3 separate regions of the Homo sapiens genome follow, and regions 1 and 2 are each linked to region 3. The links come from fine-mapping of genetic effects on gene expression. A gene starts in region 3. Each other region holds a variant in brackets. All regions are shown on one strand. Distances are from middle to middle. Region 1 overlaps MTUS1 (microtubule associated scaffold protein 1). Region 2 holds the start of LOC124901891 (a long non-coding RNA gene). Region 3 holds the start of MTUS1 (microtubule associated scaffold protein 1).

The links. PIP is the estimated chance that this variant, and not a neighbour inherited with it, causes the effect.
Region 1: its variant is fine-mapped to the expression of MTUS1 in whole blood (INTERVAL, PIP 0.92).
Region 2: its variant is fine-mapped to the expression of MTUS1 in subcutaneous fat (GTEx, PIP 0.99). The same link has a PIP of 0.9 or more in visceral fat.

The regions. Positions count from the first base shown.
Region 1 is chr8:17,697,601-17,706,021 of GRCh38, forward strand. The region is part of intron 6 of MTUS1 (microtubule associated scaffold protein 1); the gene reads right to left. Among named protein-coding and RNA genes, the nearest start is that of MIR548V, 20 kb to the left of the region's middle. The variant G/A (reference allele first, on the strand shown) is at 4,430.
Region 2 is chr8:17,643,194-17,651,614 of GRCh38, forward strand. It overlaps MTUS1 (microtubule associated scaffold protein 1), which reads right to left. Exons shown (of 15, transcript NM_001363059.2): 13 at 6,653-6,769; 14 at 3,789-3,886; 15 at 609-2,946. The coding sequence ends at 2,733. It overlaps LOC124901891 (a long non-coding RNA gene), which reads left to right and starts at 3,886. Exons shown (of 2, transcript XR_007060834.1): 1 at 3,886-5,359; 2 at 6,370-6,764. The variant G/A (reference allele first, on the strand shown) is at 4,795.
Region 3 is chr8:17,797,370-17,803,990 of GRCh38, forward strand. It overlaps MTUS1 (microtubule associated scaffold protein 1), which reads right to left and starts at 3,725. Exons shown (of 15, transcript NM_001363059.2): 1 at 3,692-3,725. It overlaps MTUS1-DT (MTUS1 divergent transcript), which reads left to right and starts at 3,973. Exons shown (of 3, transcript NR_186403.1): 1 at 3,973-4,373. RefSeq lists silencers at 3,839-3,958, 4,039-4,098, 4,139-4,328.

The DNA.
Region 1 (8,421 bases), 99 kb before region 3:
GATGCTCTTCCTCTGAATACAATCTCCCTCCTGCAGGTCTAGAAGCTGCCTCTGAACCACATCACACTGTGCATGCTTGTGGAGTTGTTATGGTTTTCATCCGAGATGGTAAAGGGGAGGAGAAAGTGGGTGGTCTCAGGAGCTTTACAGAACAACCAATAATGTCACAGATCCTGTAACCACTTGAAAGATCGCTAGGGGAAATTAACTACTTCAAGTGCCTAATGTTTCTTTCATAATTAGAAAAAAATTAGGATTTCCTGAAAGTAAACTGTGTCCTGATTTTAACATTTTTCACTCCTTATATTCACAATGATAACATGAGCATTTTTTCTCTAGATATTTTACATGTAAACTACATTTAAACCTGGTATTTTGGAAAAGTTTTTTTTTTAAAGACTTCAGGCAATAAATGTTCTCAACTACAATATTTAAGAAAATTTCTATTCTAATATATTAATGACAGATTGTCAAAAGGTTAAAGTTCAACTTTAATTCCCACATGCTGAGGACCTCACAAATAATCAACAGTAAAAGATTAATACGGTTTCTCTATCAGATGTAATATCAGAGTTCCAGAAGAATAGTCCATCAGATAGGCATATTCTAAAGACTACATTTATTGCATGAGTAATTGCATTTATAGAACATCATGTGGTCTCTTATAGTGGTCTTTCAAGACTAGGAGTGTGAGGAGGGCACAGTTATGAATATCTTTTGCCAGTTATCTACTAATTTTTATTTCAGTAGAGTGGCTTGTAAAAGTATGTTAAAACATGATAGCAAAACCAAAAGAACTTGAAAAACAAAGATATGGTTATAAGAATTAACAACAACAATATGCCCACTTAAGCTAATTCCATTAAACCACGAATAGCCTGAGCTCTTAACATTTTTAAAAATGTTATAAACAAAACAATGTTTTAAAAATGTCCTATGCCTGTTTCCAAGATTTCCTAGAAAATAAGACTCAGAAATAAATGCAGAATTGTTACCATAAATAACACTATTAAGTGCTATTAAAACTAGCAGGAAGCAGTTCTTTTAGAAATTCTATAGAGTAGGGTATGAAGCAGGGAAGAGAGAGGGAGGAAGAGAAAATTTAAATAAGTTCTCTTCCCTCAAGCCCCCTCCCTCTTCACTCAAGCCCCCAACTTGCCATTTTAGAGGTTGTCAGCAAGAGAGACAGACCCAATAACCTGTCCAGGGTTCCTGTGAGAAAGATACACCTAGTTCATACACTGACGAAAAACCTGCTACATACATTGCACCACAGCAACTGAAGCTAAATGATCAAGGAATTAAAATCAAGGCCAGCTGCTTCTAGGTGTTGCCTTTTACTTCATCCCAGTTTATTATTAAAAAACCTGAACACCTTTTCCTTCCAGATTCTACATACTAAAAATATACCAGAACCTTTTCCTCTACCTCCCAAAACCTTGTAAAAACCAAGAAACCAATCAGCATTAAAAACAAACAGAAGAACAGAGTCAAATTTTGCCATGATTAAAAACAGACATGCCACCACTCCATATAGTAGGAGGTGGTTTTTCTTTCTTTTGGTTGTGTTTGTTGTTTCTTCAGTAACAGCAAATTCTAAATTATCCTTTTTTGTTTGTTTTTGTTTGTTTTTTGAGATGGAGTTTCACTCTTGTTGCCCAGGCTGGAGTGTAATGGCGCAGTCTCTGCTCACTGCAATCTCTGCCTCCCGGGTTCAAGTGATTCTCCTGCCTCAGCCTCCGTAGATGGGATTACAGGTGCCCGCCACCATGCCTGGCTAATTTTTGTATTTTTAGTAGAGATGAGTTTTCACCATGTTGGCCAGGCTCGTCTCGAACTCCTGACCTCAGGTGATCCACACACCTCGGCCTCCCAAGTGCTGGGATTACAGGGGTGAGCCACCACGCCCAGCCTTAAATTATCCTTGTTAAAAGGGAAGTTCTTTAGACTCCCTAAAAGAAGAAATTACCATCTAATCATCGATTAATCAGATTCATTAACATTTTTACTTGAATTACATTAAGCTATAACCACACATATTGAAAATAAACATTGTTAATGATATCTCTTAACAGCAGAGCAAGAAGCTGCAGGAATAAACTAAATTCAGTTCTTTCCCAAACATAGTCTGCCTCCTGGTGGCCGTGCAGCACAAGTGCACCAAAGCAAGGGAGCTGCCTTGGCAGTCCATAAACAAATGGCCATCGCTTACAATCTACTGCTCCAAGCACTCTCTTACACACTTTACGTTTGCTCATTTAAATAACTGGATAAGCAATTACTTTCAGGTCACAACTATTTTTATACTATATATGCCTCTGGGGGGAGCCAAGATAAAAAATTGGTTCCAAAAAATTCTTTGATTATTTGATCATCTGTTACCAGTTAGGAACTCCATATTTTCTGAAATTGAACGAATGTGAGAAGTACCTAAAAAAAGCATCTTTGTTATTTTTAAAAGTCTTAATTTAAGAGGAAAAGATAGGCATCACCAAGGACAGTAGAGGAAAAAATAAGGAAATTTTAGTGCCTAAAGTACAACAGTTTGTAGTTGTAAAAGTTAGCTATGAGTCTTTATGGGCCGGGCGCGGTGGTGAGATTACATGCCTGTAATCTCAGCACTTTGGGAGGCCAAGGCAGGTGGGATCACCTGAGGTCAGAAGTTCAAGACCAGCCTGGCCAACATGGTGAAACCCCGTCTCTACTAAAAACACAAAAAATTAGCTGGGCATGGTGACAGGGGCCTGTAATCCCAGCTACTCAGGAAGCTGAGGCAGGAGAACCGCTTGAATCTGGGAGATGGAGGTTGCAATCAGCAGAGATTGTGCCATTGCACTCCAGCCTGGGCAATAAGAGCAAAACTCCTCAAAAAAAAAAAAAAGATGAGTCTTTATGAAGCAGAGCCTGTGTTAGGATGTCAGTGGAAAACAAAAACATGATTTAAAATTTTATGCAATGTAGGATCTCAACATTAAACAAAAACGATTAAGTATATTGGAGCAAACATGCCAGAATGTCACCAATGCTCTGGGAGGTAGAAGAGGGAGGATTTCTATTTTTTCTTTATTATATGTTTTTGTATTTTCCTAATTTTTTTTTTCAAAAATCATGCAGCCAGAAAAAAATTAAAAAGTTTAAGTGTTAGAATAATTTTATAGAAAGCCTACAAAATGAGCCGAGTTTTCATAATGACACAAAGAAAAATAAACGATGTGTAAAGTCTATACTAAGGCTTAAATAACAAAAGAGGATGATACAGAATGTTTCATAAGTCAGTATGTTGTAATATCACAGTATATTCAAACAAACAGAAATTCCACTGGTCTGCATAGAAATGTGTTTTTTTAAATCAGTGATTTAGAAAACAATGATGTCATGATTCTAGACAAGAATCTAGCATAATCTGTATGGGGTGCTTAGATGCTACAAAATGCCTTCAATTTATCTGTTATTGTTTGTTGTTGTTAATGATCATAAAGAATGAGGAAGAAGATTAAAATTTAAACCAAGTGACTTGTGTGGAGATTCAAGCATCTCTATCCAACCAATCTTCCTTAGCCTAATATGGAATATTAATCTTTATATTTATCTCCTTACTTTCCCTAACACAGCATTAATTGCAACATTTTCTTCATTTTACTCCTCACAGTCTTTAATGTAGTAAGTTCAATTCTCTATTCCAGTTGTAGAAACTTCAACTTAAGGCCCAATTTTTCCACACTATCCTCTTCCTCAGTACGAAGATAAATTGTAATTATCAAAAAATTAACACAAAGCAATTAGAAAAACAATCAACTTCCACCCACCTGTAAGATGATAAGCTCTCAAAGAACAGTGACATTGCCTTTTATTTTGCAATAAGCAAAATAAGAGTTTAAATTAAAAGCAGTAATGCTTTTAATTCATGTACAATGTTTGTTTTTAAAAAACAAAACCTCATATGTTCATCGTAGAATTTTTTTTTTGAGACGGAACCTCGGTCTGTCGCCAAGGCTGGAGTGCAGTGGCGTGATCTCGGCTCACTGCAAGCTCCACCTCTCGGGTTCAAGTGATTCTCCTGCCTCAGCCTCCTGAGTAGCTGGGACTACAGGCGCCCGCCACCACGCCTGACTAATTTTTTTTGTATTTTTAGTAGAGACAGGGTTTCACCGTGTTAGCCAGGATGGTCTCAATCTCCTGACCTTGTGATCCACCTGCTTTGGCCTCCCAAAGTGCTGGGATTACAAGCGTGAGCCACCGCACCCGGCCAGAATTTTCTTTTCAATTTAAATTACTTACACATCAGACTGCTCTCCAATTTGTTTTTAAACTTAACATAAGCTTAATAAACTTATTAAACTTAAAAATTTCACACTTATCTTTCCATGGGATTAAATAAGCATTTATATTGTTATTTTAATGGCTTCAAAAATGTCTTTAAAATGTCAAC[G/A]AACTTAATTCCTGTAAGGTATATAGGTTGTTTCCAATTTTCCCCCATTGTAAACAATTCTGAAAAGCAGTCAATAAGTAAATAAATTACTTTCCTAGGACCAATTCTGAAAAACAGAATTCCCGGGTGGAAGGTGTTTGCTCTCTGCTACAGCTGCTGTAATTTACCAAGGAGCTGTACATATGAGTGCTGTTTCTTATTCTTCGCCAGTACCAGGTGCTAACATTAAGAAATAAGCAAGAACTGAGAGCACATTATTTTAACTCATATTTGGTAAACATTTTTCATATATTCCTTAGTCCTTCATATATTTCTTTTCTGTCCATCCACTTATTTTTCCCTTTCTTTTTGTTTAGTTTTTTTAATTGTGGCAAGAACACTTAATGAGATCTACCTTCTCAACAAAATTTTAAAAGAACAATATAATATTGTTAACTGTAGGCACAATGCTGTAACAAACATCTCGAAAACCTTTTCGCCCTTGCATAACAAACCTTGTACCATTGAACATCAAGTTCCCATTCCCTGGCAACCACCACTCTACTCTGTTTCTGACTTTGACTATGTTAGATGCCTCCTATAAGTGGAATCATACAGTATTTGCCCCATGACTGGTTTATTTCACTTAGCATAGTGTCCTCCAGCTTTATCTGTATCACAGCATATGGCAGGACTTTCTTCTTTTTAAAGGCTGCATAATACTCCAGTGCACATATATGCCATATTTGCTTTATCCTATGGACACATTTAGGTTGTTCCCACATCCTGGCTATCATAATGTGGCAATGACCATTGTTGCAGGGAGTCAGGGACCCCGAATGGAGGGACCGGCTGGAGCCACGGCAGAGGAAACATAAATTGTGACGATTTCATGGACATTTATCACTTCTCTAAAAATACTCTTATAATTTCTTACGCCTGTCCTACTTTAATCTCTTAATCCTGTTATCTTTGTAAGCTGAGGATGTACGTCACCTCAGGACCCTGTGATGATTGCATTAACTGAACAATCTGATTGCAAAATGTTTATTTGAACAATATGAAATCAGTGCACCTTGAAAATGAACACAATAACAGTGATTTTAGGGAACAAGGGAAGACAACCATAAGGTCTGACTGCCTGCGCGGTCGGGCAGAATACAGCCATATTTTTCTTCTTGCAGAGAGCCTATAAATGGACGTGCGAGTAGGAGAGATATCGTTAAATTCTTTTCCTAGCAAGGAATATAATATTAAGACCCTAGGAAAAGAATTGCATTCCTGGGGGTAGGTCTATAAACGGCCGCTCTGGGAGTGTCTGTCCTATGCGGTGGAGATAGCTTGGCCGGGTGCGGTGGCTCACGCCTGTGATCGCAGCACTTTGGGAGGCTGTGGCGGGCAGATCACGAGGTCAGGAGATCGAGACCATCCTGGTTAACATGGTGAAACCCCGTCTCTACTAGAAATGTAAAAACTTTGCCTAGCGTGGTGGTGCGCACCTGTAGTCCCAGTTAGTAGTCCCAGGCAGGAGAATGGCGTGAACCTGGGAGGCAGAGCTTGCAGTGAGCCGAGATCGCGCCACTGCACCGCAGCCTGGGTGACAGAGCCAGACTCTGTCTCAAAAAAAAAAAAAAAAGGACTGAGAGAGATACGCCCTGGTCTCCTAGTCTCCTGCAGTACCCTCAGGCTTACTAGGATTGGGAAACACCAACCCTGGTAAATTTGAGGTCAGACCGGTTCTCTGCTCTCAAATCCTGTTTTCTGTAAAGATATTTATCAAGACAATACGTGCACTGCTGAACATAGACCCTTATCAGGAGTTTCTGATTTTGCTCTGGTCCTGTTTCCTCAGAAGCATGTAATCTTTGCTCTGCCTTTTTCCCTTTGAGGCATGTGATCTTTGTGACGTACTCCCTGTTCATACACCCTCTCCCCTTTTCAAATCCCTAATAAAATCTTGCTGGTTTCGCGGCTTAGGTGGACATCACGGACCTACCAATATGATGTCACCCCTGGAGGCCCAGCTGTAAAATTCCTCTCTTTGTACTCTTTCTCTTTATTTCTCAGACCGGCCAACACTTACAGGAAACAAAAATAACCTACATTGAAATATTGGGGGCGACAGACCATGGGAATGCAAGTATCTCTTCAACATCCTGATTTCAATTATTTTGGTAAATAACGCCTTATCAGACGTATGGTTTGCAAATGTTTTCTCCTATCTCATAGGCTGCCTTTTCATGCTATTAAATGACTGCTTTGCTCTGCAGATTTTTAATCTGATGTACTCCAACCTGTCTATTTTTGCTTTTGTTACCTGGGCTTTTGGTGTCATACCAAGAAAAATGACATGAAGTTTTGCCCCATGTTTTGTTTGAGGTGTTTTATAGTTTCAGATCTTATATTTAAGTCTTTAATCCATCTCGAGTTGATTTTTGTGTACTGTGTGAGATAAGGGTCCAATTTCATTATTTTGCTTGTGGATGTCCAGTTTTCCCAGTACTATCTACAAAAAGACTATCCTTTCCCTATTGTGTATTCTTGGCACACTTGCTGAAGATTAGCTAACCGTATATGCACGGATTTATTTCTAGACTATTTTATTCCATCGGTCTATGTTTCTATATTTGTGCCAGTACCATACTCTTTTAATTACTGTGTGTTGTAATATACTTTAAAATCAGGAACTGTGATGCCTCCAGCTTTGTTCTTTGTCAAGATTGTTTTGGCTATTTGCAGTCCTCTGTCATTCTATATGACTTTTGGGATTGTTTTTTCTATTTCTTTAAAAAAATGACACTGGGATTTTGATAGGGATTGCACTGAATCTGTAGATCTCTTTGGGTGGTATGTCCATTTAGCTTCTATTATAGAGTTGTCTTTATCTTGCTGATTTGACAGAGCTCTACACAGAGTATGTGCTAATATAACCTCAGTTTGTTCTTTGCTTATAAATACTGTTTCTAATGATTTTTATTCTTTTTATTTTTTTTGAGACGGAGTCTTGCTCTGTCACCCAGGCTGGAGTGCGGTGGTGCAATCTCAGCTCACTGCAACCTCTGCCTCCTGGGTTCAACGATTCTTCTGCCTCAGCCTCATGAGTGCTGGGACTACAAGTGTGCACAACCACGTGCAGCTAATTTTTTTGTATTTTTGGTAGAGATGGGGTCTCAGTACGTTGCCCAAGCTGGTCTTGAACTCCTGGCCTCAAGCAATCCACCTGTCTTGGCCCCCCAAAGTGTTGGGATTACAGGCGTGAGCCACCATGCACAGCCTGTTTCTAAGGTTTTTTAAAGCTTTTGTTGTCCTAATTATTAATCGTTTCTATTATACTAGTGTTCCTGGAAAGATCTTTTCTACTTAAGTCTATATTCTTAGTGTTTTAATTACTTTGTGTGTTTAAAACTAATTTATCTGAAATACTTTGTATATATGTGAAAAAGATCTAGCTCCTGCTAAAAAGGTAGTCACTGTCTCAAGAAGATTTACTAAATGATCCACTCCTCACAACCCCCAACACCAATTTGAAACAAAAATGTATCCCATATGAAAAGAGCATCTGTGTTTTAAGTATAGGGGGAAAGTTATGTTAATCATAAAACAACAGTGAAAAAACAGCCTTCTCTCTACTCTCACCAGAAGAAACCCTGGCAGCCTCGGCATCACCTCATCAGCAGGTTTGCAACTTGCAACCACTTCCCAGCACTTGGCAAAAGAAGGCAAGAAAGCCGCCCTGTTCTCCTGTGATGTCTTTACTAAGTAACTGCGGAAGGACCAGTGCATTTTCTACCTTCCAAGGCAGACACTCTGGCACCTGAGAGTGATGATCTTGTGTAAACCAATCAGGGTACTGGATAAATACAGCTCTGATGCCTCTGGTATGCCAGTGGCTTTAGTGTATGGTAGAACCAAGGTAATAATAGTATTCTGTGGTATGTGTGACATCTTCCTTATCAGCAGTAAGCCAAGATTTTTTTTAGAGTCAATATCAACTACAATCTTGCAGCGTCATA
Region 2 (8,421 bases), 150 kb before region 3:
CAATACCAAGTATTCTCTTTTATATCACCGCAATATATTAGAATTTTAAAATGTACTAGATACAGTTCAACTACTTACCCACAAGCAACAACTCCAGACTCAAATGCTTAGAAATGTCATTTTGTCTTAGTAGCAACTTTAACAAATGTGAGTTAATTTATGAAGGTACTGAAAAAATTCAAGGACACTTCATTTTTTTAAACTGCTGCACTCAAAGGTGTAATTGTAGATTAGTCTATTCAATAACTAGAACAAGTTTTTAGAAGTTTAGCTTTCAATATGAAATAGATGCATAGATTAAGAACATTCAACTTTGTTTAGACATTTTTTACGATATTCAAAAATATTTACCAAGTTTGTCCAATTTTCTTATACAGCAGAAATTGTTACAGCCAGCCAAAATTTATTTGTCAAACATAGATAGCTTTGAATTTAGAGAAGAAGAGCTTACCTCTCACTCTAGCTCTGTGAGCCCATGACCAACTCTGCGGTTGCAGTGGAAATTCCTGGGAAATATAAACTAAGAGGAGATACGACCTTTACTGTGCTGTCACAGGGCTGTAAAAATGAAGAATTTGAAGAATGAAGTAGGTCAGAGGATGCAATTCTTGAGTATTCCAGCATTATTTATTTGATCAGAGTAAAATACACTTCCCATCACTACAAACTGAGCACAACTACAGTTGTCTACACATTCATATTTTTGACGTGCCAACATTTTGCATTCTACATGAAACATTTGGTTTAAACAAAATCTTAAGAATTCTCTATTTTGTTTCCCATCTTCCCTCCTGTTCTCTCCCATCCTCCAAAGATGTTTTATATTAACTGCTATGAGATTTATTTGCCGGTCACGTAATACGGAGGACAGCAGGGAACAACACAAGATTTACCATGCCTAGGGGATGAATGGCAAACCCAACTTTGGCTAATGTCATTGAGAACAACTTGGAAGCGTGAGCAGAGATATCTCATGAAGTGGCAGTGAACCTACATTTCCATTTATCAGAAGCAAACATGGAAGGTTACATACATGATGAAGTATTGGAAGTTAAAGACTTAAGACACAAAATCACTAATTTAAAAGAACATGCAACATGAGTATCAACTTGCTATGTAGTGTACATGTAAATGACCCAAATATTCACCTCTAGCATCCTGAATCTCTTCTTACTACAGCTGTTATTTGTACAGCCACTGAATGTAGATTAGTAAATACTGACATCACAATGTTGACACATGCAGGGAGGGGGAGATAAAGCAACAGTTCTTCCTTCCACCTTTTCCAAAGTCTCAGGATTAGGGGAGGTAATAAGTTTTGGAAAGAAACTGAAATGCAACCTGGAGGAGAGTTGGACAAGCCACATTTTCCACTCATGGGAAAGAAGCGGACCATTCTGCTACTTTCCCAAAGACAAAGGGACTCCTTAAAGGGTAACTGAAAAATGAGCGCTATCCTCCCAGACTGTTTTCTTCTATCAAGTACTGCATCATCGGTAAGCACTGAATCCTACCTTTCTTAATTATACTAGCCAATGACTTCCTTGTTCTCGTTCTTTATTCTAAGATTTCCCAAAATTTGTAATATCAAATCCAGGCTTTAGTTTATTTGGAAAGTGGTTTCAGCACCTGGAAGATGAGCTGGCTCTGGGGCTCTGGAAAATCATATTCCTTTATCCTTGTCCCAGAGAAAAGTAGGTAGGAGGTAGAAGGTTTGCTTTTGTGGCTCTGGATGGTGGAGAAAGGTAAAAGGAAAATGAGAATAATGGGAGGGAAGAAGACAGGTTAAATCTGCAAGGGTAGATCAAAGGTAAAAATAAGGTGGAAAAACCCATTGGTACTTCCCTTTTTCTTTCTTTACACAGTTAGTTAGTTAGTTTGTTTTTTTATAGAAAAATTAGGGTTCTACATTTACACATAGCCTGAGAAAATGAATTACAGGATAGTGTTAGGCTCACATGGGTAAGTAAAAAATCTACAGAAAAATCTAGTTTCAACTGACATGGCTGAACACTGAAAAACTGCCAAGAAGTTACCCCCAAAAGATACAGAGAATGTATAGACAGGGACAAGTCAAAGCTCTTCCTGTTATACCCTCTCCCTACCCTGTTACAGGGCTGAGCAGAGTTGGTGGTAGATGATCATAATTCAAGCAACTATTGCTTTTTCTTCTATGGCTTTGGCTGAAATGTATATGCTGATTGATTGATTATTATTTGATTAGTACATATCCAGATATATTCAGATTTTGACATTTAATACACAGCAGAGGAGGCTGCATCAGACACATGACACTCTGTGACATCCATTTCATTCACACCCCCCACCCCCACAGTCAGACTGAAAACTCACAAGAAGGTGTCTGTGGTGAAGAACATTACAAAGGTTATAAATCTTAATAGGGCCCTGAGAGTTTTTCCCCCTATGCTTAGGTGAAAAAGGCAATGAACAAGATGCTCTCGTTCTTTAAGTGCTTTGTGCAACAACGTCCGTGTCGATGCCGAAATCTTTTTTTAAATCTTTTTTTGGAGGAATCTTTTGGACGGAGGCAAAAGTCTTCCTCCAGAGTTCCAGTCTCAGAAGCTGCGATTCCGCCGGTGGTGACGCTCCAGTTACCCTACGGTGATCACACGTGTGCTGATATACCTCTTGTGCCCACGTTCCTCCTTGGGGTCAGTCCTGCAGACCTGCATCAAAATGCTTTCAGAGAGTCTGTGGACTTTGGGGAGGTGTCATCTGGGTGAAATGCTGGGGCTAGGGAAGGAGCCCGAATTCCTTGGTGACTGCAAAGGGATGGCGGAGGATGTGGGGGATCTCTTGGGGCTACACAGGTCCCCATTGTGCAGTTTCCACAGAAGCTCCTCGTTTTCCATAGAGAGTCGCTTGTTGACTTTCGACTCCTTCTCCAGCGACTCTTGCAGAACAGCCTGCTCCGTGGAAAGCTGCCTTGAAGAAAAAGGCCAGAAACCATGAGATCTATGTAAAAAAAAAAAAAACTTGAAAAATTTTTCTTAGCGTTTGAAACTTTAAAGTCCAAAATTATTCCTTTGGGATAAAACAGAATCCTGCACAAGGTCACAGGTATTTGGCTGGCTAAGAAAACCCAAACACAGGCCGGGCGTGGTGGCTCAAGCTCATAATCCTGGCACCTTGGGAGGCCAAGGTGGGTGGATAACTTGAGGCCAGGAGTTCAAGATCAACTTGGGCAACATGGCGAAACTCTGTCTCTATTAAAAATACAAAAATTAGTCACGCATGGTGACATGTGCCTGTAGTCCCAGCTACTCAGGAGGCTGAGGTGGGAGGACTGCTCGAGCCTAGGAGGTGGAGGCTGCAGTAAGCTAAGATCACACCACTGTACTCCAGCCTGGGCAGAAGAGTGAGACCTCATCTCAAAAAAATATATAATAATAACTGTACTTTTTGGGCAATTTCATAGTAGGCTGAGAGCCACTTTTGCAAATATTCGACATGTTTTATGACTACCTTATGTTGCAGGCTGTTTTCTATTTGGTTTTGTGTTGCTCTTTGTCTGAAAGCATTCTCAGAGGCAGCCAGAGGCCGTGGGAGCAGGCTTGCTGGCCTGGGTCTCAGTGTACAGTTTTCAGGCCGCTTTGGTAAAAGCATGAACTACTACAATCATATTTTCCACAGAGAAATCAATGCCCTTTTAACCATCTGCTTCCATCATATTTCCAGGAGGTGCAGGGGTAGAGCGTGTCCAGAAAGTACACTGGATGTCCAAGGGAGCGGGGAGCTCGGGAGAAACAGCACTGTTTTATTTTTACCTTGAGATTGCCATGTGCTTGTCCATCCGAGCTTTCAATTCTTCATTCTCCTGCTGGAAACGCTTCAATTTGTCAACCAATGCTGTGTTGTTGTCCACCTTGGCATAAACAAGAATTCCAACATTTATACAATATTAAAAAAAAAACCCCTCATTTCTTAAGGCACCTCACGACACAAGCACACTTTGGAGATTTAATTAAGGAAAATGCAATTCCATATTAAAATATTTATACACTAACAAACATACTGAAAAAGATTTTAAAACAGCAAAACAGAGCGGCTGGGTATTTTTAAAACATGTATGCCAGGACACTTAAATATTGATACGAGTGGGTAACAGATTTGTTCCAGGTCATGTTGTTTTGGAATTCTCTAAGAATTGGTGCCTCTTTCTGTTTCAATGTGAAATAAACCCTGCAGACACACTGCCCACACTTATCAAAGCTTATCTATCTCCTTACGGTGAATTTTGCTGGAAAAAAAAAAAAAAAGATTCCCACATCTGATGAAAACTCACAGGCCAGCAATTCACAGTCCCTGGCAACGTTTACTATGGACTTGAACTCAGTTTCATGGTAAGTTTTCAGCATTTGCGTCTGAGTGGCCATACAAAGCTTCAATTCGATAGAGCTCTTAGAGCATGCCATCAAAGAAGTAACATGCCACGAGTCTCCTCAGGTCAGCTGAAGATAGATAGGTCTGTTCTCTTGCTGCCCTGTGCAGGCTGAACTTTCAAGGCAAACAAACTGATCAGCGGAGAGATGAAAGGATAAGATGCCTGAGGACATTTAATCACTTAACATGATGAAGACCTGATTCCATCCCCCACTCACTTTCTAAAGGTAAGGCTTTATGAAGAGGCAATATTATAGCTCCGTCAGGATTAAGTCTAAGTCCTTGTCCTTGTAGCAGGACTAACGCGCTTTGAGTATGTTGCTTAGTTTGGAACCTGATTGTTCTTAAGACATCCTGTTATCCAGAAGCAGCTCAGGACAACCTGTTCAG[G/A]TTAAATCACTTTCCAGAAAAGGAGTCTACGTTCAGTAATTATGAAGGATTCCCAGATAAAACAACGTGGAAAAAAACCTGGAATTTGAGATTGGGAGGTATTGTCCTTTAAATATCTCATCCTAGGGAAACTAGTCCTAATAATGTCACAGAGCTGATTATGGGCAGTGCCGGTTTCATGGGAAAGCTGTCTTTCTTAGAAAACTTCCTGTGCTTCTAAGTCTCTTAATTTCATCAGAGGCCTGTAATTTACAAATATGAAGGGAACAGTGGGTCTCCCTCTCATTGTATCAACTCATTCTTGCACACATACACAATGCAAGGCTGAAGGATATTATCAGGATACCTCTGGGGCATGGCAAGAAACAAATAGTAGATCATCAGAAATTAAATGTGTTGGTAAGTTTACAGCAAAGTCTGATTTATTGCACATGATTTTTTGAAAGTTTTGATGCATGAATGGCATATGGAGCAGTCCTATTAACAGGATCATCTGAGTCATCCCTGACTACCAGATTAGAAGATACCAGACTCAGTCGAACAGGACGACCTTTGGCAGGAACTGGTATGTATACTAGGTTGGCCCATTAACAACCATGAGTTCCTTTCCTTCCTTTACAAAAATTTCCTGATAATTCAAAATGCTGGTATATCCACACAGGGGCTTGGCCGTTATCTCCCTCAACAGAAGTCATAGTCTCCAGAAGAAAACCAAACGCCAAACCAACACAAACCAAGCAGCAGAGAGGTCCCCCATGTCCCCTACTGTCCAGGGCTGGTTTGGGTTTGAATGAGGCACTTGTAGAAGCCTGAGTCACTCATCACTGTGGGGAGAAGAGGCCAGTAGCATGCGGCAGCTGGACAGTCAACAGCAAGGCACCGCGAGGGCGGGGATCACTTAAGCTGCCTTGCCAAACTCTGCCAACTTGGTTAGAGTCCTGGCTGGCAGCAGCTGTATTTCAGGGCCGGGCCAAGACTGACGCTGAACACTGAACATGCCACTCACACTAACATCGTTCTCTGTTCTAGACACTGCAAAGTGAATGTTAATTCATATTTTTGGTAACACCTGCTACTTGTCCAAATGGATTAATCTTATTATAGCACAATTTTTTTTTTGAGATGGAGTCTTGCTATGTCGCCCAGGCTGGAATGCACTGGTGCCATCTCACCTCAATGGAACCTCCACCTTCCCAGTACTTGGGATTACAGGCACCCACCACCACACCCGGCTAAGTTTTATATTTTTAGTAGAGACAGGGTTTCACCATGTTGGCCAGGCTGGTCTCGAACTCCTGACCTCAAGTGACCCACCCATCTCAACCTCCCTAAACTGCTGGCATTAGAGGAATGAGCCACTGCGCCCAGCCCACGATTCTTTTATCACATGCTAATTCACAAGAAGCAAGATGAAGAATTTTGATAAATAGTATTGCTATTCATTTCTATTAAATTCATTTCTATTCATTTCTATTAAACGTATCCAACTGTTTTGGATCTAAGAAACCTGTCCAGGGTGGCTGGTATATTAAAGTACTGATTTTACATAGATATTTAAACATTTTTCTTATGCAGGTGAAGATCCAAAATACCACTGAAATATAAGCCTGATTTGTTTGTAGTTTTTCCAAGGACTGGGTGCTGTTTTACATGTTCCTTGAAAAAGAAAACATTCTAGGAGGCAGCAATGAATAAATATGGAACAAACTTGGAAAGAAAATGTGAACTTTATCTTTTGTATAATTTCTAAATATCTTTAGGAGCAGTTAACCCAACTCCACAGTTCTAAAATGCAGGGCTCAATTTCACACATATTACCCCATTTGTAAGATCCTCTTTCATTCTGAAGGAAACATACCAGTTTCTCCATTTTCATTAACTTGATGTCCTGTTGATGCAGTTTCTCATTCTTGATCTCTAACACAGCTTTCAGGCTTTCTAACTCCTGTTCTAGATACATGATCTGAGGATTTTTCTGGAAAGGACACAGCAAGATACTGCTCTTATTCCACATAGTTCAAATTCTTAACAGAAAGAATCTTTGATTAGATTGAGACATTAGACAAGTAGCAAGCGACAGATGTTCATCATCTTAGAGCAATTTCAAAGAAAGAGGTGAAAAACAAGAGCACCTTAATGTCGAAGACTGGTCCTAATACTGAAAGCAAACATTTCACTTATTTATCAGTAACTTAATATGCAAAAATGTGAGTTGCATCAAACATGTTATTGTATCAAGAGAAAAACTTTGCTTACATACAAAACAGAATCTTGGCTGGAGATGAGGCAATCTGTGAGTCAGTTATTGGCATTTTCTGGGAGAACAGGGAACAACAGTTCTCTCCTACCAAACAAACTGATCAGGAAAGAAAAAGCAGTGCATTATACGGCTCTCTGGAAAACAACAGGGATAACAATGTCCTGAGTGTTTGGATTTTTGTTATGATGGGGCTACGTTGACTGGGCCATACTTCTAGGGCAGACATAATACTATCATTTTCTATTGTGACACCCCAGTACCTACACGGCATGGAGTACACAGCCTATTTAAATTTCTCTCCAAAAATTACAAGTTTGCCAGGCATAGTGGCATATGCCTACAGTCCCAGCTACTCAGGAGGCTGAGGCGGGAGGATCAACTGAGCCAGGAGGTCAAGGCTGCAGTGAACTGTGAATGCACCACTGCATTCTAACCTGGTGGCAGAACAAGATCCTGTCTCAAAAACACAAAACTCTCCAAAATAAATGCTACATCAGGGGAGGCGTCCTCTGAGAGCACACCATCAGTGTGGATTTCCCACCACCGCCCACCCACTCCTTGCTTTATTCGGAAATTCAACTAAACCATTCAAAATTTATGCTACAGAAGAACAGCATATGGTCCACTGATCAGATATGTTTAATGAAGCAACGTCTTAGGTAAGAGTCGGTGGTGTGGTCATCAAGCTTATCTTCCGGGGCATTGGTTTCTGCTCTGGACCAATCCTTAGGGAGAATCCAGGAAGGGGCCTCGGGGATTACTTAATCCAAACCCCTTACTTCACACAGAAAGAGGAAACGTGTTCCACGGGTTAAGCGCCCTACTCAGGAAAGATCAGGAAAGCTTCCAGAGCTGGAAAGGGTCAGGGCAGGGACTAATACATCTTTAATTCTAGGTTCTTTAGATAGTTCCCTGAGGCTAGGAGAGGTATGCGTGTGTATGGTGGGAGGTGGGGTGGGGTGGGATGAGGAGAGGTTGGTTAATGCATACAAACATACAGTTAGACAGAAGGAATAGGTTCTAGTGTTCAAGAACATAGTAGGGTGACTATAGTTAATAATAATATATTGCGTACTTCAAAATAGCTACAAGAGAAGATATAAAATGTTCCAAACACAAAGAAATGATAATGATGACGGATACCCTAAATACCCTGACTTGGGCATTACACAGTCTATGATTGTCTCAACACATCACACGTACCCCATAAGTACATGCAAATACTAAGTATCAATTTTTAAATTTCATACATTTTATACAGTGTTACCCTTGTACGCAGGATTTTTTTTTTTTTTTTTACCTTGAAAATAGCGAATCCTACCTCATTTTTGTTAGAGGGAAATGGCATAACTTACCGTCAGTTTTAA
Region 3 (6,621 bases):
GCTACTGTATTCCAGCCTGGGTGACACAGCAATATCCCGTCTCAAAAAATAAAATAAAATAAAATAAAATAAAAAGTTAGAAGAAATTACAAGTCAAATTCAACTCCTGGTTATACTGGACCATCCAAAACCAGGTATAAAGTCTCCCTGGTCAAAGTAGGCTTTTCGGGGCCAGATTTCAAGCTAGCTGAGTTCATACCATCCCATCTAGTCCTTCATTTCCTGTGGGTGGGATCGCTCATCCTCCTTCTCAGGAGGCCACAGTCACCACTGTATCCGCTGCTAAGTGGTCACCTCCCTCCGGGGCCTGCCTTCTTCCAGAGAAAGTCTGAGGCCATTTTTAAGTGCCCCTAAGCACGCAGATCCTGAACTCCAATTTCATCCTTATGGCTCAAATATGGTCCTATCGCTTACTCTTACGCTCTAAGCTTGGGGAATAAAAGGGACTCAGGCTCTCATGGAGAACACACTTCCTTTAGTGAGGACTTTCAGGGTATATTCAAGCTTTCACAACACAGAGAAAGAACCCAACTTTGAGATATCAGGAAGACGTGTTCCCCCGCCCCCCCAAATAAATACTTTGCTGAGTAGCAGTATTGGAAATTAATCCAGGAAATTTTTTAACTACGTATGCAGTACATTTGTCTGGACATCAACAAGTCCGTATGAAACCACAATAATGACTATAAAAAGAAGAATCTGGCAAAATGATACTACAAATAGATTACTGACAATAAATGGAGTGTGAGCCTACTTTGTATAATCACAGAATAACAGATCTGAAAAACATTCAGTCTTAGGGATTTAAAACTTTCTGCTCTGATTTCAAAGGATGTTGTTCCTAATAGTATATACCAGGCCCAGTGGCTTCTCATCAACAAATGCAATTAGTTTTGCAACAGTCTCTAACCCAAGATATGGAAGTTCTTGCAATGAATTTGAAAAGATTCTAATTTAGAATTTGGGGAATTTTTTTTTTTTAAGATGGAGTTTTGCCCTGTTGCCCAGGCTGGAGTGCACTGGAGTGATCTCGGCTCACTGCAACCTCCACCTCCCGGGTTCAAGCGCTTCTCCTGCCTCAGCGTCCCAAGTAGCTGAGATTACAGATCCATGCCAACACAATTGACTAATTTTTTGTATCTTTAGTAGAGACGGGGTTTCACCATGTTGCCCAGGCTGGTCTCGAACCCCTGACCTCCTGATCCGCCCGCCTTGGCTTCCCAAAGTGCTGGGATTAGAGGCGTGAGCCACCGCACCCGGCTGGAAAATTTTTTTTAAATCTTCTACCACAGTCACATATAGTTCTGAAGCTACGATTTAGAAGTGTTAAAAATTCTGTTTTGAGAAAGTCAACAGATTTATCAACATTAAAGAAATTTGTGTATGTCAAAACTACTGTAAATATATAAAGCAAAGATAAAATGGGAAAAGTATCTGCAATATGAATGGCAAAGATTTACTATCAATCCATAAAAGGCTCTTATGAATTAATGGAAAAATACTAATATCCCAGGAGAAAAATCTGGCACTACATCAAATTTCAAAATGGAAAACAACTAGATTTCTTTGGTGTTCAAATCATCTGTAATCAAAGAAATTGAAGTTTAAATATAGAGAAAGCACTGTTCACCTATAAACCTGGGAAGAATTTTTTTTTTTTCCCTTTAAGGATGATTCTACATGTTGACAAGAATACGGTAACACCAGTATTCTCACAGAGAGCTGGTGGGAACATAATTTGGTTAAACATTTTTTGGAAAGCAAATGGTCAATATGTATGAGGAGATCTTCCAACCATCAACTGTATTTCAAGGGCACTAAGGATATTAACCCTGCACATAAAGTTTTAAAAACGTATTTGTTGCAAAAGTATATTTAGTAAGTGGAAATAAATGAAAACCAGTTTGATACATCTATGTAATGTAATATTAAGTAGCCACTAAGATTTCTGAAGATTTCATGACATGGAAAATTTTTCATGATACATTAATCAGGAAAAAACCTCCACGCAATAGTATATTTAGATAAACTATATAACTATAAAAAATTTTTCTATATATTAACAAGTATTTTCTTAAATATTAACTGTGATTATCTTTGCTGAAATTGCTTAACTCACTTTTCTCAATCTACCTATTTTTATACAGCAAGCACGGATTACTTTTGAAATCAAAACAAACAGGGTTAACAGAACAGGGCTATTAAGTAACAGGCTTTTTAAATGCTTGAGTGTAATAACTGCAGGTTAGTTTCCAAAAAATATAAGATATTATCTAGAATCTTATAATCCTATTATACTCCAAAATGTAACCTTGACTTATTGACATAATTAAAAGGTCTTGTTCCAAGCATGATTTTCTACCAAGCAGATTTACCAAGAATTATTTTCTCTTCATAAACCTGATTTTAAAAAGAACAGGTGAAAAAACGTGGTGCAAGTTACATAAATAACTACATATTATTTTAAACTAAATTCCACTTCTAAGGTTTTTTAGCTTTGGTTTTAAGGATAAGCATGTAGTTCTAATCTTTTCTTTGTATAGCTTTCCTAATGGAATATATTGCCTATGAAAAAAAAAAAATCTGTAACAGCACTTTCTACACTGTAAAGCACTGTACTAACAGGACATCACCATTTTAAGTTGTGTATCATTTCCTGCCCTAACCATCCCTGAAAAAGCAAACTGTCTACAGAATTGCAATTCCGTTTATGCAATTCCTTTTAAAGTTGTCCATGCACTGTTATCTTGTATATACCCTCCTTAAAGAGGTCACTGGTTCCCAGGAAGCAATGACTCTCTTTTTTAATCCCCTCCCTCCTGCATTGCCTCCCTTCCTCCTGAAATTCACTGGTAACACCCCTACTCCCACCCTCCAGCCCCAGCGCTGTGATTTAGTGATGATTGACTTTCGATCACCTGCACCTGGCAAAACTTGAAAGCTTCCACGCACCGTTTTGCCTAAGACTTTGGTTTCATTGAAACAAACAAAACACACTGGATTTCCTTTCTTAGAACACTGACTACTTCAAACAAACAGTATTTAACAGAGTATGTGTAACTACGCAGGCTAAATGAATTAACCTCTTCCTTCCTAGTCCCAAATTACTCCAAGTCAAAAATCAACAAACAACTTGGTAGAAAGGAGTACGTCTTCAAAAAAGAACAAAAACGTTCCTCAGTGAACACCTAAGTCCACTAAGCACTATAGAGTAGTCAATAAGGTCACCTTAATTAAGATGAGATTTTTCTAGAGCGTGAAAAAGTGCAAACAAGCTGCAGAAAGTAGCGAGGCGCCACGAGGGGTCTTTGGGACCTGCAGCAACCCTATTCCACCCGCTTTCTCGGCCCCGCTTGCTTCTGCTGAGAAGGGGCCCTGCGAGAAGGCTGGGACCGCCGGGCCCGGGTGGGCGGCGTAAGGAGTCCACAGTCAAGCCCCTCGGTCACTTTCAAGGTGACAGCGACGAGATCCGCATCCGTCCCTTCCGCAGGCTCTGCGCTGGCCCACGTGAGACCCGCCTCCGCTCCGCCGGCGCTGCCGCCCCCTTTAGCCCTCAGCTTCGGCCCCCAGGCCCCTGGAACGCCCCCTCCCCTCCCCGAGGACCGGTCCCGTCACCCTGGGCGGCGCGCTCGCCTGTCCCCTCCCCACCCCGGCCGCCGGGCAGCGGGAACAGATTCCAGCGCGCACTTACCCGCAGCTCCTTCAAGCGCTCCGGGAGCAAAGACGCAGAGGCGGGGAGGGCTGGCGCCCTTTGCACCACTGGCGGGGTCGCCGAGAACCCGCCCCGGAGGTCTCGGGGGCGGCGTCTGCACCTGGGGGCGCGCGGCGCGGCACCACCCCACGCCTGCGGCGGCTACCAGGCGGGACCCGGAGCCCCGGCCTCCCCGCCTCCCCGCCTCCGGGGCCGCCAGGGGGTGGAGCAGGGCGGGGAGTTCGGGAAACTTGTAAATAGCCGAACTCGGGCCTCCCGCCCCAACCCGGGGCGGCTCCTTCCGAAGGCTCCACTCCAGCGGCTCGCTGCGGGAGACCAAGGCCAGCCGCCGTCCCAGGGGACGGCCCTCGGGGAACCTGAATGACGTGCGAGGCCGTACCTCGGGGCGCTGGACTCCGCTCGGGCGCTCCCGCTCTCCGCTCCCGCTCTCGGGTCCCAATCCCGACGCTCCGCGCGCTCCCGGACTAAGTGCGGACGCGCCCCACGCCCCCCGGCGCCAGCCCGGGACAGCGCTGCACCTGTTGCCACGTGCGACGCGGCGCTCAGCGGCTGCCACTGCCGCCGGCGCACCTGGCTGCACCGCGCGTCCCGGGACCACGCTCGTCCCCGCAGGAGCCCGGGGCTCCGCCGCACCCAGCGCTAGGGCCCAGGCCGGGCCGCGGTAGGTGGGGGATCTGACTCCTGCTTGCCTCTGGCCACCTGCAGGCCGAGGGGCCTCGCACCGCGGGGCGTATAGAAGGTGGGAAGGTTGCAGAATTATCAGGGCGGAAGCTTGCAAGGAAGGAGTCGTGATTGTCTCTTAGAAGGGCTGATTCGCAGTCTGTATTATCTTCATGCTTCTAGCAAGTTTACTAGCAAGTGTGTATTAAAGGTTAAAGAAAGTAGCTTTCCAGCTATTAGAGCTTGAGATACAACGTGGAAAGGAGTCTAGAACCCCAGGGAGATAAACTAGGCTCGACCTACTTTTCTCTAAACACAAACACAGTCCTTGCTGTTTGCTAAACTGAGCAAATTTCATCGACAGCTGTCTTCTAGGTCCGTAAAATATTTTCTTCTATAAAGCATATTTTTAATAGAAAACTTGTCCGAAGATGCTATTCTGCCTGTGAGAGATGTCACATTGCTGAACCGTGAAATGTCAGACAACCTGAGAACAAAATTTTAATATTTCCTTTTTAATTACCTGGATTGTGGTTTGCTAAAAGCTTTTAAAGAGAAGTGAACTTTTTTGGAGAATAGACGTAAGGACTCTGTATTTCACAGTTTTCTATACCATGAATATTAGAATAACTGACAGATGTCTTGCCATTGATAGTTGTAAAGACTTTTCATATGTACAATGATCCATTATTTCCTGACTACAAAACCCAGGGGTATATAGGTCAGATTATCTCCATTATTCAAATGAGGAATTGAAGCTCAGAAAGGTCAAGTGACTAGCGCAAGGTCACACAGCCAGTGAGGGCAAGTGCAAACCCAGCCAGCCTAACTCCTAATCTTCTCTTTTAATTCCATTACATAATGACACCTCTCATTTGCTTCAGAAATCCCTGTTGTAAAGATAGATGCAACTAGCATGATCCGTGTTGTTAGGAAAGGCATGTGATTAATTTTAAATAGATATAGTATTTAACACCACCAGATGAGTCTCCCTCTGAAAAAGCACACAAAAACAAAACAAAACGCTGACATAGTTTCCGCAAGTCACGAGGCAATTATGCTAATTAGCAACAAGCCTCCATCCCTAAGCAGAATAGTTCTTGTGTGAAACATATCATTTAATCTTTATAACCCTGATGTGACCTAGATGATTTGGTCTAAACCCCACAATCCTATTGTGTGGCTTAGTTATATCTATAAATATAGAACCTGTTTTACTTCATTTTTGTGTCAGGTGGTTTGAAGGGGGGAAACATACAATGCTCTGCTAAGTAATTAGAGCTACTTACGCAGGCATTGGGGAATCTGAAACTTAGCTTCTAATTGTCTCCACATAAAAACAGAAGTTAACTTCTAGGGACATCTTCAGGGACTCCTCAAGGCAAATATTCATGAAATGGGGCCTATTGGCTTTTCTTTTCATCTTGGTTCTGGGCATGTTGCCATGTTCCTGATCTCTGAACTCTGATGCTGACCTGCTACAGACTCCAGGAGCAATATTAAGGATAAAATAATAACTCACATAACTTTGTGGCTCTTTATTCTAAAAAAAAAAAAAAAAGTTGGCTCAATTTTTTTTCCTCCATAAGAAAATGCAAATTGCAACTGTATTGAGAAACCATTTTTTCACTTATCAGATTGTCAAAGATTAGAAAGTTTGATAATCACAGTGTTGGTAAAAGTGTAGACTAGCAGTCACAATGAAAATGTAAATGTAAATTATAATGACCTCCCTAGGGGGAAGGTCAGGATACCTAACAATATTGCAACTATACGTATAAGAGTTTATCTTGGCCCTGCGTGGTGGCACGGTGACTCATGCCTGCAATCCCAGCACTTGGGGAGGCCGAGGCGGGCAGATCACCTGAGGTCAGGAGTTGGAGACCAGCCTGGCCAACATGGTGAAACCCTGTCTCAACTAAAAATACAAAAATTAGCCAGACATGATAGCAGGCGCCTGTAATCCCAGCTACTTGGGAGGCTGAGGCAGGAGAATCCCTTGAACCTGGAAAGCGAAGTTTGCAGTGAGCCGAGATTGTGACACTGCACTCCAGCCTGGGCAACGCACCGCGACTCTGTCTCAAAAAAAAAAAAAGAGTTTATCTTACAACACACAGGAGAAATGGTATGTATCTACAACCTTGTTTATTTCAGCATTGTTTATAATAAGATATATTTCAAATACAAATATTCTTTAGTAAAGGACTGATAAATCATGATATAGGCATAAAATGAAATCTTATGAAAGC